Homo sapiens: one gene and its partners. The protein of the gene in region 2 interacts with the protein of the main gene of each other region in a biochemical or structural test. Each region holds a gene or a part of one and is shown on either strand. Other genes may lie near its edges.

Evidence for each region. Proteins that work in one complex are often made in the same cells at the same time.
Region 1: the proteins of RIGI (region 2) and IRGM form a complex in vitro, tested with the Homo sapiens proteins (one study listed by BioGRID).
Region 3: of the proteins of RIGI (region 2) and PRKCB, one has a biochemical effect on the other in vitro, tested with the Homo sapiens proteins (one study listed by BioGRID).

Annotation. Positions count from the first base shown.
Region 1 is NC_000005.10:150,842,076-150,849,214, forward strand, and holds IRGM (immunity-related GTPase family M protein), read left to right. Parts: upstream 1-4,445; 5' UTR 4,446-5,145; intron 5,146-5,633; 5' UTR 5,634-6,048; coding exon 6,049-6,594; 3' UTR 6,595-6,627; downstream 6,628-7,139. UniProt on the Homo sapiens protein: Immunity-related GTPase that plays important roles in innate immunity and inflammatory response. Acts as a dynamin-like protein that binds to intracellular membranes and promotes remodeling and trafficking of those membranes.
Region 2 is NC_000009.12:32,454,770-32,460,196, reverse strand, and holds the end of RIGI (antiviral innate immune response receptor RIG-I), read left to right. Parts: exon of another isoform or gene 1-682; coding exon 683-826; exon of another isoform or gene 827-1,155; intron 1,156-2,778; coding exon 2,779-3,075; 3' UTR 3,076-4,895; downstream 4,896-5,427.
Region 3 is NC_000016.10:24,090,963-24,097,994, forward strand, and holds part of PRKCB (protein kinase C beta type), read left to right. Parts: intron 1-1,828; coding exon 1,829-1,985; intron 1,986-3,200; coding exon 3,201-3,335; intron 3,336-7,032. UniProt on the Homo sapiens protein: Calcium-activated, phospholipid- and diacylglycerol (DAG)-dependent serine/threonine-protein kinase involved in various cellular processes such as regulation of the B-cell receptor (BCR) signalosome, oxidative stress-induced apoptosis, androgen receptor-dependent transcription regulation, insulin signaling and endothelial cells proliferation.

The sequences.
Region 1 (7,139 bases), on a different chromosome or scaffold from region 2:
TTACTCTGCTGATTATTTCTTTTGCTGTGCAGAAGCTTTTTAGTTTAATTAGGTCCCATTTATTTATTTTTGTTTTTGTTGCATTTGCTTTGGGATCTTAGTCATGAATTCTTTGCCTATGTCAATGTCTAGAAGAATTTTTCGAATGTTATCTTCTAGAATTTTTATGGTTTCAAGTTAGATTTCAGTCTTTGATCTATCTTGAGTTTATTTTATTATTATTATTCTTTTTGAGACGGAGTCTCGCTCTGTCACCAGGCGGGAGTGCAGTGGCGCGATCTCGGCTCACTGCAACCTTTGCCTCCCAGATTCAAGCAATTCTCCTGCCTCGGCCTCCTGAGTAGCTAGGACTACAGGCACGCACCACCATGCCCAGCTAATTTTTTGTATTTTTAGTAGAGACAGGGTTTCACCATGTTGGCCAGGATGGTCTCAATCTCTTGGGCTCATGACCCGCCCGCCTCAGCCTCCCAAAGTGCTGCGATTACAGGCATGAGCCACCGCACCTGGCCGAGTTTATTTTTGTGTAAGATGAGAGCTGAGGATCCAGTTTCATTATTCTACATGAATTATCACATTGATTTTTCCCGCAGCCTTTTCTGATAATGATCAAACAGAGGAAAAGCCTGGGATTTGATCCACATTGTTTTCCGGGCACATGGAGTTCTCTGATGCACCAGCCTCCACATCTGTGCTAAGGCCAGGTCTTACTTTGCTATAAGTACCTTTGTTTGGGGATCAAGATAATTGGCATGGAATTAACTATATATAACCTCACATGGGAAATCTATTAATCTGTGTTCTTCATTCTGCATGTTTTACTCATGAAATTAATTCATTGGATTATGACCAGCATTAAAAAACAAACAGATGAAAAACATTCATAGAATGGAATAGGAGTTATAGGGTGTATTTAAGGCAAATTGTTCTGTAATACCTCACATTCACCTGTGTGCAGGTATTTGTGTGCATGTGTACTTGGTTCCTATATGCTCACTTAGTAAATTTAGGAATATGCTCCTTCTAGGATCTGGTTCTTTTTTTTTTTGTATGGCTGCCACTCTGTAATTGAACCTGGTTCCACGACTCCCTTTAGAAGGGCCTCCTCCTCCTCTTCCAAAAGGACTCCTCTGCCCCTGTCTGGAGGAAGGTATCTGGCAATATATCTGGGCAAGATATTCAAAGAGCTGAGCTTGGAGCAATTGTAACCCAGGCTGAATTCTGATGACCTCTTCTAAACTTCCAGGTCAGTGCTCCTGGAGGCTCACCCACACAAACACATAGGCACACTAACAACACCTGGAAGACACACCAACCTCATGCAGAGGAAACCATACCCTCACTGGCCTGGCAGTGACACAGGGGCCTGGGCAGGCATAGCACAGAAGAGTCCTGGTGTAACTGAGATAAAGTATCTCAATTGTACAAATAATTATTTTCGGCTCGGTTGTCTCTAGCGTGCAGCTGGTGAGCCTTCACCATGGGCCCAGGAGAAGCGGATCATATGAACAAGGCCTGGGGATGGGACAGTTGAGCTGGGGCTGCAGGGGCTAAGGCTGTTTCCCATGGGGCTCAGCACTGGTGGACAGGTAAGCAGACAGGTTTGAAGATGCTGGCTCAGTTCACAGACATGGTCACAGAAAAAGCCTGGAAAACTATAGGGTTTTCTGCTGACCTCCCACACTCACCATGGACAGTCAGTACCCTGCACTGGCCCGTGTCGTACCCAAGCAGAGTGTGCTTGAAAATTGGATGTATATTAGTAGACCCCGTGCTCAGCGGGTACAGTTTAGAAAGGGAAGTTAACTTATCTGTCAATTAGTAAGTTAACAACACACAAAGTGTACTATGTTTTATTAATCAAACAAAAATATGTTTAACACCTGCTGGGCACAAGGAGTACAATGGTAAAGAGTTTAATGGAAATGTTTAATGGTTAATGCCAAGACCTGTGTATGTATTAATATGATGCCAATCATTTAATACCTGATGAAGCAATAGTTTCTGGGACTACTTGGGTTAGAAAATGGGCCTGCCACAGGCCCAAGCCCATCCCCTACCCTGCATGTGCTCCTGCTCCACTCCCTTGTGCATCTATCCGGTATAATGTTGTGGGGAAGGGGAGTGCTCGATTCCTCACCTTAACCAGCCTGCCAGCTATCCATGCAGAGACATGTGGGCAAAACTCCTAAGGCCAGACCTCCCCACTCCATTCTCCTGCTAGGCTGCTGAGGGACTCCATTCGAACCTGGTAATTACCCTGCCTCCTTCCCTCCAGATTCCATAGGTTACCTCTTCCTCTTTGCAGACTAACTAAAAGCCACCATATCTAAGTAGCATTTGATGAGAAGAAACTAGTTATTTATGTAAACCAAAATAATTAATGTTACAACGGAGAAACTTTATATAGCAGCCACAGATGAAGCCTGGCATGAGGAAGTCAATGATCAGTTGCTGCTCTCGCCATATGGTGGGTTATAAAATCTTCCCAAGACAAGTGAGGCACCGAGAAATTGAAGACTCATATACATTCCAGAGAACAGGGCCTCTCTCATCCATCTCCTCCATTAGGGCCTTTCTTCATATTTCATAGATAGACAGCTGGAGCCAGTTCTCTGCTTCCTGGGCCCTCTAAAAGGGCCAAAGACTTGGACAAATCCATTGTCCTGGGCACTCAGGAGGCAAGATTCTGTGTGTGCATGAGTGTACGAACATGTGTCATGTGAGAGAGTGTGTGGGCACTGGGCACACGAAGCATGAGGGTAGGTGAGTGAACATGTGTCAGCCTACATGAGTGTATATATATGTGCACAGAGTGTGTGAGCATGTGTGCATCAAACATAAGTTTGTGTGAACGTGGCACCACGAGTGAATTTGTGTGTTTGTGTGTGGGGTAAGTGAACATGTTGCAGCCTGAGTGAGCAAGTGTAGTGTGTGCAACAGGGATGTATGTATTCATGTTTACACATGTCAGCTTAAGTATGTTAGGGTGTGTGAACGTGTGTCAGTGTGAGTATGTGTGGGCCTGTGCACAGAATGCAAGTAAGTGTATGTGTGCATGCCGAGGGTGAGTGAGAGTGTGTGTGTGGGGGGGTAAGTAAACATGGCTGGGCATGGGTGAGTGTGCACACCAGGTATGAGTGGCTGTGTGCAGTGTTGTGTGTGTTCACAATGAGTGTGTGAAACAGACCTGCCAGGCCATGCTAGTGAGAGGTGACAGCATGCTGGCAGCCCTCGCAGCCCTCGCTGGCTCTCGGAGCCTCCTCAGCCTTGGCGCCCACTCTAGTGGCACTTGAGGAGCCCTTCAGCCCGCCGCTGCACTGTGGGAGCCCCTTTCTGGGCTGGCCAAGGCCGGAGCTGGCTCCCTCAGCTTGTGGGGAGGTGTGGAGGGAGAGGCACGGGCAGCAACTGGGGCTGCGGGCGTCGCTTGCGGGCCAGCACGAGTTCCGGGTGGGCGTGGGCTCAGCGGGCCCGCGCTCAGAGCAGCCATCCGGCCCCGATGGCCCCTGGCAGTGAGGGGCTTAGCACCTGGGCCAGCAGCTGCTGTGCTGGATTTCTCCCCGGCCTTAGCTGCCTCCCCGCAGGGCAGGGCTTGGGACCTGCAGCCCGCCATGCCTGAGCCTCTCTCCCCTGCCCCACTCCGTGGGCTCCTGCACAGCCCGAGCCTCCCCTATGAGCGCCGCTCCCTGCTCCACGGCGCCCAGTCCCATCCACTGCCCAAGGGCTGAAGAGTGCAGGCGCATGGCCGGGGACTGCCAGGCAGCTTCACCTGCGGCCTGGTGCAGGATCCACTGGGTGAAGCCAGCTGGGCTCCTGAGTCTGGTGGGGACTTGGACAACATTTATGTCTAGCTAAGGGATTGTAAATACACCAATCAGCACTCTGTATCTAGCTCAAGGTTTGTAAACACACCAATCAGCACCCTGTGTCTAGCTCAGGGTTTGCGAACACACCAATCGACCCTCTGTATCTAGCTAATCTAGTGGGGACATGGAGAACTTTTGTGTCTAGCTCAGGAATTGTAAATGCACCAATCAGCACCCTGTGTCTAGCTCAGGGTTTGTGGATGCACCAATCAGCACTCTGAGCCTAGCTAATCTGGTGGGGACTTGGAGAATCTTTATGTCTAGCTAAGGGATTGTGAATGCACCAATTGGCACTCTATATCTAGCTCAAGGTTTGTAAACACACCAATCAGCACCCTGTGTCTAGCTCAAGGTTTGCAAATGCACCAATCTATACTCTGTATCTAGCTAATCTAGTGGGGAGGTGGAGAACTTTTGTGTCTAGCTCAGGGATTGTAAACACACCAATCAGCACCCTGTCAAAATGGACCAATCAGCTCTCTGTAAAACAGACCAATCGGCTCTCTGTAAAATGGACCAATCAGCAGGATGTGGGTGGGCCAGATAAGAGAATAAAAGCAGGCTGCCCGAACCAGCAGTGGTAACCTGCTCAGGTCCCCTTCCATGCTGTGGAAGCTTTGTTTTTTTGCACTTTGCAGTAAATCTTGCTGCTGCTCATTCTTTGGGTCCACACTGCCTTTATGAGCTGTAACACTCACCGTGAAGGTCTGCAGCATCACTCCTGAAACCTGTGAAACAACGAACCCCCCGGGGAGAAACGAACAACTCCAGACTCGCCGCCTGAAGAGCTGTAACTCTCACTTCGAAGGTCTGCAGCTTCGCTCCTGAGTCAGTGAAACCACGAACCCACCGGAAGGAAGAAACTCTGAACACATCCAAACATCAGAAGGAACAAACTCCGGACACGCAGCCTTTAAGAATTGTAACACTCACCGCGAGGGTCCGTGGCTTCATTCTTGAAGTCAGTGAGACGAAGAACCCACCAATTCCGGTAGGAGTAGGAAATCACATCACCTTCTTTTAATCAGTCTCAAATACCTGGCCCCTTGTGGAACCTGCAAGAGCCAGGTTTGGCGAATGCAATGATAAGCAATTGTCTAATCACTGCCTTGAAAAAGAGCAGAGCATTTGAGTATGCTGTCTCCTCCTCTCCCTCACTTCAGTTGGGCCCAACATGACAGTCTTAATGGAAGCTCGGGGGTCAAAGGCTGGTGGCTTACTTCACGTATATTGCAGCATTTCAGTACTGCTCTGCACGTGTGCTCCCCCGCCTGATGAGGTAAGTGTTAAACAGGGATGATCACAGCTTCAAGTAAGCAATGGGAATTGGATGTTTTATGTCCTCTGGCGCCATCTTCAGCAGAGAAATATATAGGTCACTTTTACTTGTCTGGTTTTGGTCTTGAAATATGTACTGAAACTTGTGAAGGAGCAGACCTATATTAGGATAGAGTAAAAGAGGGAAAGACAAAAACCTCTTGGGCTTTTCAGGAGACTTGGTTCATTCTCTGCTTTTCAAGCCATCTCATGGCCACATGCCTGCTTTGGAGGCTGACTCGGAGGCACAACCGGCCTCAGGGCGTTCCTCAGGGACCCTACCTTTCTTGCTCCCTGAAGAAATGTGCACATTGCTTGAATAAAAACAATCAAAGAACACTCAGTCAAGATCGTCTGCTGCAGTCTTCGTTGAGGGCTGGGGATGCTAAAAGTCAGATGATTCATGTGTACCCTGTCCATCCTAACTCACCTGCTCTTCTACTTCCGCAGCTTACTCCAGTGCCCACAGATACGACAGAGTGTCCCAAGTGCCCCTCACACTCTATTAGCTGCATCCTTAACCTCTTTTTGCCACACCATAAGCATTGGGTTTTGTTTGTTTTGAGATGGAGTCTTGCTCTGTTGCCAGGCTGGAGTGCAATGGCGTGATCTCAGCTCACTGCAATATCTGCGTCCAGGGTTCAAGCGATTCCCCTGCCTCAGCCTCCTGTATTAGCTGGGACTACAGGCGCACACCACCACGCGCAGCTAATTTTTTTGTATTTTAGTAGAGAAGGTTTCACGATGTTGGCCAGGATGGTCTCAATCTCCTGACCTCGTGATCTGCTCGCCTCGGCCTTCCAAAGTGCTGGGATTACAGGCATGAGCCACGGCGCCTGGCCAGCATTGGGGTATTTTATTGAAGATGGAAGCCATGAATGTTGAGAAAGCCTCAGCAGATGGGAACTTGCCAGAGGTGATCTCTAACATCAAGGAGACTCTGAAGATAGTGTCCAGGACACCAGTTAACATCACTATGGCAGGGGACTCTGGCAATGGGATGTCCACCTTCATCAGTGCCCTTCGAAACACAGGACATGAGGGTAAGGCCTCACCTCCTACTGAGCTGGTAAAAGCTACCCAAAGATGTGCCTCCTATTTCTCTTCCCACTTTTCAAATGTGGTGTTGTGGGACCTGCCTGGCACAGGGTCTGCCACCACAACCCTGGAGAACTACCTGATGGAAATGCAGTTCAACCGGTATGACTTCATCATGGTTGCATCTGCACAATTCAGCATGAATCATGTGATGCTTGCCAAAACCGCTGAGGACATGGGAAAGAAGTTCTACATTGTCTGGACCAAGCTAGACATGGACCTCAGCACAGGTGCCCTCCCAGAAGTGCAGCTACTGCAGATCAGAGAAAATGTCCTGGAAAATCTCCAGAAGGAGCGGGTATGTGAATACTAATTCCTGTCTTCATTAAACATTTTCCATCTCCTCCTATTGATTCCTTTTCTCCTTTATTTCACTGGACTCATTGAAACACACCTGGTGCAGAAGGGTATCTTACAATTTTCGGGGGCATGTAGAGAGTGTGGTTGTGTTGTTCTTTGAGATCTTTTGAGTGTTGGGGCCAAGATTCCCAGGCAAGGCTGCTTGCTTCGAAGGTCCTTTCCCTTCACGGAACTCTCCACCAGGTGCTAAAAATGATCAGTGTCTTAAAATGGATGCAAGATTATATCATCAGGGTCCTAGCACTCTCAAACTGAGTCATAATGAGGGTATTTTCAAAGGTGTGGACAGGGTGCAGGGAGACCACCAAGACAAAATGTTAACCCCACGGTATAACCTCAAGGCAAGTAATGGTCGGGAGGAGCCCTCTCCAGGTTCGAACAGGCAAGTAGAGAGGCAGGTTGCTTGAATCTCAAGATGGAGTTTATCAGTAATAATAAAGACTTCTGGGCTTAAAAACACACAACTGAGATCTACAACAAAACCTCTAAAACAGAAAA
Region 2 (5,427 bases):
CAGAATCACGGAGGGAGGCAGAAGGCACTTCTTACATGGCAGCGGCAAGAGAAAAATGAGGAAGAAGCAAAAGTGGAAACGCTGATAAACCCATCAGGTCTTGTGAGACACAATCACTATCATAAGAATAGCACAGGAAAGACTGGCCCCCCATGATTCAATTACCTCCCCCTGGGTCCCTCCCATAACACGTGGGAATTCTGTTAAGATACAATTCAAGTTGAGATTTGGGTGAGGACACAGCCAAACCATATCAGGGGCTCTTCTGCCTGTTGTATCACTCACTGAGTTTGTGCCTGCAAATGGATATAATTATGCCTGAAACAGCGCATATTGTATATCTGGTACAGGTTTTGTTTTTTTTCCCAAGTTTTGCCAAACACTAAAGTAGAAAGCATAGTTCATATGACTATTCTATGGACATCTTTAGTGCTTTTATGAGCATTTTTGATGAAGAAATTGAAAGACTAATTGGAGGCCACAATTAAGCATTGACTAATACTAAGTTAGGAGAACCAATAAAATCTGTGATTTTACAAAGTCAGGTACCATATGTTCATGGAAGTTGTATATGAATGATTATACATGTGCGTGCATGTATATGTATTGTACGTATCTGTGCCTGTTTCTTGCTATATATGTTGTACTCAAATTACATTTGCGGTCTTTCTTTTTGCATTAGATTCTGCATATACAGACTCATGAAAAATTCATCAGAGATAGTCAAGAAAAACCAAAACCTGTACCTGATAAGGAAAATAAAAAACTGCTCTGCAGAAAGTGCAAAGCCTTGGCATGTTACACAGCTGACGTAAGAGTGATAGAGGTAAGCTGCCTTTTTACAAAGTGCCTGGTCATGTTTTAGCACTAGCTACAGCTTACTGTTGGTGAAATATTTATAATAAAACTACTATTATTTCCATTGTTACTGTGGCCATGATCTGTGTATTTAAAAAAAGCTAAGAAGTGAAAAAAAAATACTAAATGTTCAATAATAAAGAAATAGTTTTTGGCCAGGCATAGTGGCTCATGCCTGTAATCAAAACACTTTGGGAGGCCAAGGTGGGCGATCACGAGGTCAGGAGTTCGAGACCAGCCCGGCCAACATGGTGAAACCCCGTCTCTACTAAAAATAAAAAAGTTAGCTGGGCGTAGTGGCAGGTGGCTGTAATCTTAGTTACTCGGGAGGCTGAGGCAGGAGAATCGCTTGAACCGGGAGGCAGAGGTTGCGGTGAGCTGATATCGCGCCACTGCGCTCCAGCCTGGGTGACAGAGCAAGACTCTGTCTCAAAAAAAAAAAAAAAAAAGTCATGCTAAATGCAATGACGTGTCCTGGATTAGCTCCTGGAACAGATAAAGGATACAACTAGAGAAAGAGTGGTAAAATCTGTAGTTTAGATAATAGTAATGTACTGATGTTAATTATCTTGGTTTTGACAAATGTGCTGTGGTATATGAGATGTTAACATTTGGGGAAACTGGGTAAAGGGTATGCAGAAATTTTCTGGGATATCTTTGCAATTTTTCTTTAAATCTAAAATTGTTCCAAAGTAAAGTTTATTTTAAAAAATTATGAAGTTTATGTAGTATAATGAAAAACTGCTTACAAACTAATGGTAATAAGGAAAAAAGTAACCAGAACACAGAATTGTAAAGATGCTACTTTGTAGCTGTGTGAAACAACAGCAGCAAATACATTCATTGTCATTGTCAAGAGAAAAAGTCAAAAAACCTACCTTGCTACAGAAAAACAAAGGCTAGGGGAACTATACCAAAATGTATTAATATTTTGGTGGTGAGATTCCATGACTTTTTTTCTCTTTTCCTACTACCTTATGTTTTCCAAACATTCCTTTTGGGCTATGGATCACTTTTATAATGAAAACAAAATATCTCCTTATTTGTAAAATGTGACATCTGCAGATTAGCCTTCTATTGCAGCCTTATATTTCTTTCTTAAAACTTTCAGAGAAAGGGTTAGAAAAATCTCCAAAGAGAAATATGGGGTATAACTCTTGCATGGGGGGCACAGTGGAGGGGCTGGGCTGGCTCAGATGAGGAGTTATTACTTCAGGATGTTCCGTTCGTCTTCAGAAAGCAGAAATCTCTCATCAGCTCAGCTGTTTGGGCAAAAAGCCTATTAGGAGTCATATTGCTAAGTTCCCTTACCTTTCTAAGTCTGCTTCTTTAGCTGTAAAAGGTCCTTTCAGCTCCAATTTGGGTGATTGTTCTACTAAAAATGGCCCTTTTAGACCCTATGTTTTCCTGAGGGACTAGTATGTTGGATCTGCATTTGTTTCTGAGCTGTTTACTCTAAAGTTGACTCTAGGTGGGGCCTGTGGACACATTAGTCCCTGACCTTCTTCAATTGCATCTTGACCTTGGTCGTTTTCCCTGTATCCTTTGGATTGTGCCTGCCAGGGCCACTGGTGAACTTCAGCTTCACAAATTTTCAGCAAACATCGCTTCTGTTTTTGAATAATGAGTATCTACCTTCAGAAGCTGGGTTACCTGGAACCTTCTTAATCTTCTTCTTTATGAGGTGCCCAGTGTCCTCACTTGCAACCCCACCCTGCCTGTAGAGGGGAGTCAGGTGCATGGATCCTCTGGACTTTGGGTGAATCTATTTTTTTTTTTCCTCCAATTGTAAAATAAGTGAGACCCACCTGTTCTTTGCCTCAGATTATTGTGGGGTTTTCTTTTTTTTTTTTTTAAATCACAATTATGTACTGGTTCTAACGTTCTCTTTTGTGTGTTATTCCATCCCTTCATCTGTAGGAATGCCATTACACTGTGCTTGGAGATGCTTTTAAGGAATGCTTTGTGAGTAGACCACATCCCAAGCCAAAGCAGTTTTCAAGTTTTGAAAAAAGAGCAAAGATATTCTGTGCCCGACAGAACTGCAGCCATGACTGGGGAATCCATGTGAAGTACAAGACATTTGAGATTCCAGTTATAAAAATTGAAAGTTTTGTGGTGGAGGATATTGCAACTGGAGTTCAGACACTGTACTCGAAGTGGAAGGACTTTCATTTTGAGAAGATACCATTTGATCCAGCAGAAATGTCCAAATGATATCAGGTCCTCAATCTTCAGCTACAGGGAATGAGTAACTTTGAGTGGAGAAGAAACAAACATAGTGGGTATAATCATGGATCGCTTGTACCCCTGTGAAAATATATTTTTTAAAAATATCTTTAGCAGTTTGTACTATATTATATATGCAAAGCACAAATGAGTGAATCACAGCACTGAGTATTTTGTAGGCCAACAGAGCTCATAGTACTTGGGAAAAATTAAAAAGCCTCATTTCTAGCCTTCTTTTTAGAGTCAACTGCCAACAAACACACAGTAATCACTCTGTACACACTGGGATAGATGAATGAATGGAATGTTGGGAATTTTTATCTCCCTTTGTCTCCTTAACCTACTGTAAACTGGCTTTTGCCCTTAACAATCTACTGAAATTGTTCTTTTGAAGGTTACCAGTGACTCTGGTTGCCAAATCCACTGGGCACTTCTTAACCTTCTATTTGACCTCTGCGCATTTGGCCCTGTTGAGCACTCTTCTTGAAGCTCTCCCTGGGCTTCTCTCTCTTCTAGTTCTATTCTAGTCTTTTTTTATTGAGTCCTCCTCTTTGCTGATCCCTTCCAAGGGTTCAATATATATACATGTATATACTGTACATATGTATATGTAACTAATATACATACATACAGGTATGTATATGTAATGGTTATATGTACTCATGTTCCTGGTGTAGCAACGTGTGGTATGGCTACACAGAGAACATGAGAACATAAAGCCATTTTTATGCTTACTACTAAAAGCTGTCCACTGTAGAGTTGCTGTATGTAGCAATGTGTATCCACTCTACAGTGGTCAGCTTTTAGTAGAGAGCATAAAAATGATAAAATACTTCTTGAAAACTTAGTTTACTATACATCTTGCCCTATTAATATGTTCTCTTAACGTGTGCCATTGTTCTCTTTGACCATTTTCCTATAATGATGTTGATGTTCAACACCTGGACTGAATGTCTGTTCTCAGATCCCTTGGATGTTACAGATGAGGCAGTCTGACTGTCCTTTCTACTTGAAAGATTAGAATATGTATCCAAATGGCATTCACGTGTCACTTAGCAAGGTTTGCTGATGCTTCAAAGAGCTTAGTTTGCGGTTTCCTGGACGTGGAAACAAGTATCTGAGTTCCCTGGAGATCAACGGGATGAGGTGTTACAGCTGCCTCCCTCTTCATGCAATCTGGTGAGCAGTGGTGCAGGCGGGGAGCCAGAGAAACTTGCCAGTTATATAACTTCTCTTTGGCTTTTCTTCATCTGTAAAACAAGGATAATACTGAACTGTAAGGGTTAGTGGAGAGTTTTTAATTAAAAGAATGTGTGAAAAGTACATGACACAGTAGTTGCTTGATAATAGTTACTAGTAGTAGTATTCTTACTAAGACCCAATACAAATGGATTATTTAAACCAAGTTTATGAGTTGGTTTTTTTTCATTTTCTATTTGTATTTTATTAAGAGTGTCTTTTCTTATGTGATTTTTTTTAATTGCTATTTGATATGGTTTGGCTATATGTCCCCACCCAAATCTCATCTTGAATTATAATCCCCATGTGTCAAGGGAGGGACCTGACGGGAGGTGATTGGATCACGGGGGCAGTTGTCCCCATGCTGTTCTTGGGATAGTGAGTTAGTTCTCATGAGATCTGATGGTTTTATAAGTGTTTGACAATTCCTCCTTTACACACACTCTCTCTCTCATCTGCTGCCATGTAAGACTTGCCTGCTTCCCCTTCTGCCATGATTGTAAGTTTCCTGAGGCCTCCTCAGCCATGTGGAACTGTGAATCTATTAAGCCTCTTTTCTTTATAAATGACCCAGTCTCAGGCAGTTCTTTATAGCAGTGTGAAAACAGACTAATACACTATTGTTTAAGAACTCCAATAGGATGTGTAAAACATCTACTAGAAATAGATTTAATAAGATAAAAGTTATTATTATTATTTTTTTTTCTGAGATGGAGTCTCACTCTGTTGCCCAGGTTGGAGTGTAGTGGTGTGATCTCGGCTCACTGCAACCTCTGCCTTCTAGGTTCAAGTGATTCTCCTGCCTCAGCCTCCCACATAGCTGGGTACAGGCACCCACCACCACACCCGGCTAAATTTTTTTATTTTTAGTAGAGTCGGGGTTTCACCATGTTGGCCAGGCTGGTCTTGAACTCCTGACCTCAAGTGATCCACTTGCCTCGGCCTCCCACAGTGTTGGGATTACAGGCGTGAGTCACCATGCCTGGCCAAGAAAAGTTCTTTTAAGTATGTAAATGATTCAATTTGGATGAAGGTGAATAGCCCTATTCAGCCAACTGAGGCAGGCAGACTGAAGTGAAAATAAATAAGGAGAACTTAGCA
Region 3 (7,032 bases), on a different chromosome or scaffold from region 2:
ATATTTTTCCAGCCTTTTCCCTATGGGCTGTCTGGGTGCAGGTTATGGGTGATACATGGATAATAGGTGCATCTTGGTTTAGAGGGTAACTCTTTATTTCTTACTGCACTTATGGAACACGAGAAAAAAAAGTATTAAATAATGGCTATGGTAATGGATATCTTTGTCTTATTCCTTACTTTAATGGAATTGCATTTATCATGAACCATGGTGCTGTTATTTCAGATAGCCTTTATCCTGTTAAAATTCTCTGCTGTTTCTAGATAACTACAATGATCTTATGGTTTTCTTCTTTGATCTATAAATATGATGAATATATTGAAAATAGATTTCCTAAGATTGAACCATCTTTGCATTCCTGATAGGAGTCATTATGTATTCACCTTTTAGCAGATAGTTAGAGTCGATTTGGATTGAATGTATTACTGTGGATTGTTCTACTGTAAGTGAGATGATTGACATTGTATCCTTAAGAGCTGTGCAATTCTCATTTTCTAGTCTGCTTCCATTGACTACCTGCATTACTGGTTTCTGAATTGATTCCTAATTAACTACTTCCTGTTTCTCCAAGCTGATGATTTAGTCTCCCTCATCCTTTCTATAGCCAGTTGCATCTTCACTGCTGATTCCCTGCCTCCTTTTCTCCTGTAAGTTCATCTTTTTTTTTTGACGGAGTCTCACTCTGTCGCCCAGGCTGGAGTGCAGTGGCATGATCTTGGCTCACTGCAAGCTCTGCCTCCTGGGTTCATGCCATTCTCCTGCCTGGGCCTCCCAAGTAGGTGGGACCACAGGCACCTGCCACCATGCCTGGCTAATTTTTTTGTATTGTTAGTAGAGACAGGGTTTCACCATGTTAGCCTTATAGCCTCTTTACCTGGGTGTTCTGGAGTCAGGGTGGAGCTGAGCTCTAATGCTGCTGACATTGTTCCAGCCTTCTCTCTATGGGCTGTCTGGGTGCTGGTTATGGGTGATACATGGATAATAGGTGTACCTTGGTTTAGAGGGTAATTCTTCCTTTCTTTAGCTTTTTCTTTTTGAATGGAGGTAAAATTAACGTAACATAAAATTAACCATTAACTGTTTTTAAACGTACAATTCAGTGACATTTATAGAATATTCACAGTGTTGGACAACCATCATCTCTATCTAGTTCTCAGAAATTTTCATCACCTCTAAAAGAAACCCTGTACTCATTAAGCAGTCACTCCCCATTTCCCTTTCCCTCCAGCCTCTGGCAACTATTAATAGTAGTCTACTTTCTGTCTCTATGGATTTACCTGTTTGGGATGTTTCATGTAAATGGAATCATACAATATGTGACCTTTTGTGTTGGGGTACACAAATGTTCATAGCAGCAGTATTCACAACAGCCAAAAAGTGGAAACAACCCAACTATGCATCAACTGCTGAATGGATAAACAAAATGTGGGATATCTATACAATGGAATATTATTCAGTCATGCAAAAAAATGAAGTGCTGATACATGCTATAATGTGGTGAACTTTGAAAACGTTATGCTAAATGAAAGAAGCCAGCCTTTCCTGTGGGCTTTGTGGAAAATAAGCTTAGAAAACTTACAGTTAATCTTGGTATGGGAAGAGCAGTGTAAAAGTCAGAAATCCATTTTTAACCAACACAGACCAGAGTTGACATCTTATCAGCCCATCTCATTTTGTGCACTGCTTCAGCTATGGATGTTAATAAAATTAAATTTCTCACTAAACAAGTGTGATGCCAAAGAACCTTCCACAAGTTCTGCAGCTGTCACTGCTTGGTGCTTAAACATGTTGGACAGTATTAATGCAAAAACTGCTTTTTCTTTTTCAGTAAGAGATGCTAAAAACCTTGTACCTATGGACCCCAATGGCCTGTCAGATCCCTACGTAAAACTGAAACTGATTCCCGATCCCAAAAGTGAGAGCAAACAGAAGACCAAAACCATCAAATGCTCCCTCAACCCTGAGTGGAATGAGACATTTAGATTGTAAGTGGAAATGACTGCAGTGAGCATGGGTGGTGGAGGTTGGGTTATGTGCCACCTGAAATCAGGGAGTTCCTCCTCCCTTAGCTCCTGTTTCCTTCCTTCCCTACCTCCCTCCTTTTCTGTCTTCTCCATCCCTCACTCCTATCTTTCCCTCCCTTCTTTTCCATCTGCAATTTTGTATTGTGAGCCAAGAAAAAAAATTAGAGCTATTTTTTTAATAGAGATGAGAATGCCTGTGGTGTGGGGGAGTGGGTAGGACAGGAAATGGTGTGATGTGTTGCTAAGTGAAGGCAAGTTGTGGGAGAAATGATGGGGCTCAGCAAATAGGGGAACATAACCTACAGGGTGTGGTGACAGCCTCTCTAGAGTTGGGTTTATGGATGATGCTTGGCCTGCAGCCTTCTGGGACATCTCCACCAGCCTCCCTTGAGGGTCTTCCCTGGCCAGGGCTCCAAGAATCTGGGAGTCTCTTTCTTGTACATCTAGGCATCAGGAGTTGGTTATAACAGCCAATTCACTGAGCATATATGATGTGTGACAAACACTGGGTTAAGCGATCCGACTTCATCGGCTCATTTTATTCCCAATGTAGCAATAGGGCTTATAGAGGTTAAAGAGTATGCCCAAAGTCCCATAGCAAATATGGGGTGGAGTGGGATTCAGCTTCTGGCAGTCTGACTTTAGCGGTCATACTTTTTTAGCCACCAGCTAGAAGCACAGTTCCTTGTCCTGTCTCCTCTTCCCTCTCTCAGGGCAAAGCTGGGCCCCTTCTCAGCCTCAGTCAAGGACATGTCTCAGAACAGACAATTTCCCCAGGATTTTTCTCCATGCATTTCCTCAGCCTCATTCTCAACCCACCTGTGTGCAGATATACACATGTACACACCCAATTATGCAATTGATATCTGTATTTCTTATAGGCAATAGGAATTCCTGAATATCCTGAACCCTATTAAGACATAAGATAACAAAAGTAGTTAGAACTGTTCTTGTCATAGCCAGTCTAAGACCTCTGCCTGTTTAAGCCACAGGCTGTCAAACAGAAAAAGCTCTCACTCCCTGGAGAGCTAGCCTGGGATGGAAACTGAATATGTTTCTTTCAGCAGCTTGTAATCTTTAAAACTTTCTACCTCCAGGTCTTGTCCTCTTGTACATTTATTCTGCTTGAGAAATTACTACAACCTCCACTGATGTCTTTTCTTTTTCTCTATGCAGTCAGCTGAAAGAATCGGACAAAGACAGAAGACTGTCAGTAGAGATTTGGGATTGGGATTTGACCAGCAGGAATGACTTCATGGGATCTTTGTCCTTTGGGATTTCTGAACTTCAGAAAGCCAGTGTTGATGGCTGGTAAGTAAGATTTTGCCTTGAAAGCTACCATACAGCTTGCTCCATCAAACGCGGGGTCAAGTATGTTTTCCTTTTTCTCCAAAAATTGAAATACTAAAACAGAGTCCCAAAGTGAAGTCTGGTTGATTGGATCTGCCTTGCAGATATGTTTTGTTTGGTCCTTGTACTAAAAACAAAAAAGAAAGAGGCCAGGCCTCGTGTCTGACACCTGTCATCCCAGCACTCTGGGAGGCCGAGGCAGGTAGATCACTTGAGCTCAGGAGTTTAAGACCAGTCTGGGCAACATGGTGAAACCCCATCTCTATCAAAAACATGAAAAATTAGCTGGGCATGGTGGTGTGTGCCTGTAGTTCCAGCTACTCAGGAGGCTGAGATGGGAGGATCACTTGAACCCTGGAGGCAGAGGTTGCAGTGAGCAAGGTGGTCAGAGATTGAGCCACTGCACTCCAGCCTGGGTGACAGAGTGATAAAAAAGAAAGAGAGAGAGAGAGAAGGAATGAAGGAAGGGAGGGAGGAAGGAAGGAAGGAAGGAAGGAAGGAAGGAAGGAAGGAAGGAAAGGAAGAAAAAGGGAAAGGGAAAGGAAGAAGAAAGAAAGAAGAAAGAAAGACGGAAAGCAGGAAGGAAGGAAGGGAGGAAGGGAAGGAGGGACAGAAGGAGGGAGGGAGGGAATTAGTTCTAGTATTTTAAAAATCTGGGGCTAGAAGGCAACAATTGAGAACAGTTGAATAGTTAATGCCCCCTTTAGACAGGACATGGATTTTCTATTTGTCACCGTCCTCACCACTCCCTATTTTATTACATCTGGGCCAATTTACTAAACTACATGATGAGACTGTAACTGCCCAGTGGCTTCTTTGTGCCTGCTGCCCAGACAGAGCCGATTTATCAAGATGGGAGAATTGCAATAGGGAAAGAGTTTTACACACATAGAGCCAGCTAAATGGGAGAACAGAGTTTTTTTATGACTCAAATCAGCCTCCCTGAAAATTTGGAAGCTAGGGCTTTTCAAAGATAGTTTGGCAAGGAGTAGGGTGGCTAGGGAATGGGTGCTGCTGACTGGTTGGGGATGCAGTAATAGGGGTGTGAAAAATGGTCCTCGTGCACTGAGTCCACTTCTGGGTGGGGCCACAGGACTAGTTGGCAGGTCCAGGTGGGGCAGTCTGGTTGTCAGGAAGGCAAAAGCCTGAAAAGACATCTCAAAAGGCCAATCTCAAGTTCTACAGTAGTGATGTTATCTGTAGGAGTAACTTAGGAAGTTGGAAGTGTTGTGAGCTCTGGGATAAAGGCTGATAATAATCCATGTCTACATCTTAGCAGAATTCAGGCTCCTTTCATTCTCCTAACTTGGCAATATTTCATTAGTTTTACAAAGGCAGTTTAGTTTTGGGAAAGGGCTGTCATAATTTAAAATATACAACAAATTTCTTTCAAAGTTAGGTTGGCGGTCTGGTCGGGGTGGAGCCATTGGTTACGAGAAATGCAAAAAAACCTGAAGAGACATCTCAAAAGGCCAGTCTACAATAGTGATCTTATCTGCGGGGGTCATTGGGAAAGTTGCAAATCTTGTGACCTCTGGAATAATGGCTGGTAATCCTTTATGTCTACACCTTAGCAGAATTCAGGCTCCTCTCATCCTCCTAACCTCATGGTCCCTCATTAGCTTTATGAAGGTAGTTTAGTTTTGGGCAAGGGCTATTATCATTTAAAATGTACACTAGGCCGGGCGCAGTGGCTCACCCCTGTATTCCCAGCACTTTGGGAGGCCGAGGTGGGTGGATCACGAGATCGGGAGATCGAGACCATCCTGGCCAACATGGTGAAACCCTGTCTGTACTAAAAATACAAAAATTAGTTGGGTGTGCTGGCATGTGAGGATCACTTGAACCAGGGAGGCGGAGGTTGCAGTGAGCCGAGATCATGCCACTGCACTCCAGCCTGGGTGACAGAGCAAGACTCCATCTCAAAATAAAATGAAATAAAATAAAATAAACACTAAATTTGTCACAAAGTTAACTTGGCCCGAGCCCAGGAAAGCGTAAGGGCAGTTTGGAGGTTAAAGGCAAGCTGGGGGTTGGTTAGATCAAATCTCTTTCACTGACGTCATCATTTTCTCCCTGTTACAATTTCTGCAAAGACAGTTCCATGACTGGCTCCATGGACACTAGAGTGGCTTGTACACTTCACCTGAAAGATATGAGCAACCCACTGTCAGATGGTGTCTGAGAAGCTACCGCTTCCTTGGGAGTCCTTAGCAAGTCTGGCCACAGATCATAGATGTACTGGGGTGTTGTTTTCATAGTCAGCTGCTGTGTCTCCTTTGTCCTGAAGATTTTATTTTGCTCCCTTCCTATGGCAAAAAAAAAAAAAAATATATATATATATATATATATATATATATATATATATATCCTCCAATGTTACCAACAGAGAGGCTGGGTAAGCCCCCTTGGCAACTGTTTCACAGTTAACTGAGTCAAGGAGTCAGAAGAAATAGCTTAACCTGGCACTATAACTTTGGGAGAAGTGGCAATTGGGCTGCTATTACTTCTTTAAGATAAATTGTCTCATATCTGAATTGTCTCATTCAGGACCTTTTCAGCTTCAAGTGAAAGAAAATAAAAATCAAACTGGTTTAGCGAGAAAGAGATGTGTCCTTTGGACCACACACACATCTTTCCTTTCCATTGTTCACCTTATGACTTCCTTGTCTTGGCTCCATGTTTCATCTTAGGCCTTTTTTTTTTTTTTTTTTTTTTGAGACGGAGTCTTGCTCTGTCACCCAGGCTGGAGTGCAGTGGTGTGATCTCGGCTCACTGCAACCTCTGCCTCCTGGGTTCAAGCAATTCTCCTGCCTCAGCCTCCCGAGTAGCTGGGACTACAGGTGCCCGCCACCACGCCCAGCTAATTTTTTGTAATTTTAGTAGAGATGGGGTTTCACCATGTTAGCCAGGATGATCTCGATCTCCTGACCTTGTGATCTGCCTGCCTTGGCCTCCCAAAGTGCTGGGATTGCAGGTGTGAGCCTCCGTGCCCAGCCTATCTTAGGCTTTTCTTGAAACATATATTGAGTGTCCACTAGGTGCTGGTCACTAGAAACACATGGAGGTATAAGACAGACATGACTTCATGGAGCTTAGCTTATGGCAGAGGGTGGGTTGGGGAGATAAACATTGAACAAGGAATTACGCAAATGACAAATCAATGACAACATGATGGAAGATGTGAAGAAGACAGGAGCTGAGAGTTTTGAACCCAAAAGTATCTGAGACAGATTTCAATCAGTTTAGAAAGTTTATTTTGCCAAGGTTAAGGATGTGCCAGTGACACAGACTCAGGAGATCCTGATGACATGGGCCCAAGGTGGATGGGGTACAACTTGCTTTTATACATTTTAGGGAGACGTAAGACATCAATCAATACATGTGAGATTTACATTGGCTCAATCTGGAAAGGCAGGACAACTAAAAGTGGGACGGGGAGGTGCTTCCGGGTCATAGGTAGATTTTACAATTTTCTGATTGGCAATTGGTTGAATGAGCTGTTATCAATAGAAAGGAATGTCTGGGTTACATAAGGAGTTGTGGAGACCAAAGTTTTATCATGAAGATGAAGCCTCCAGGTAGCAGGCTTCAGAGAGACTAGATGGTAATTGTTTCTTATCAGACTTAAGGTCTGTGTTGATGTTAATGCTGGTTG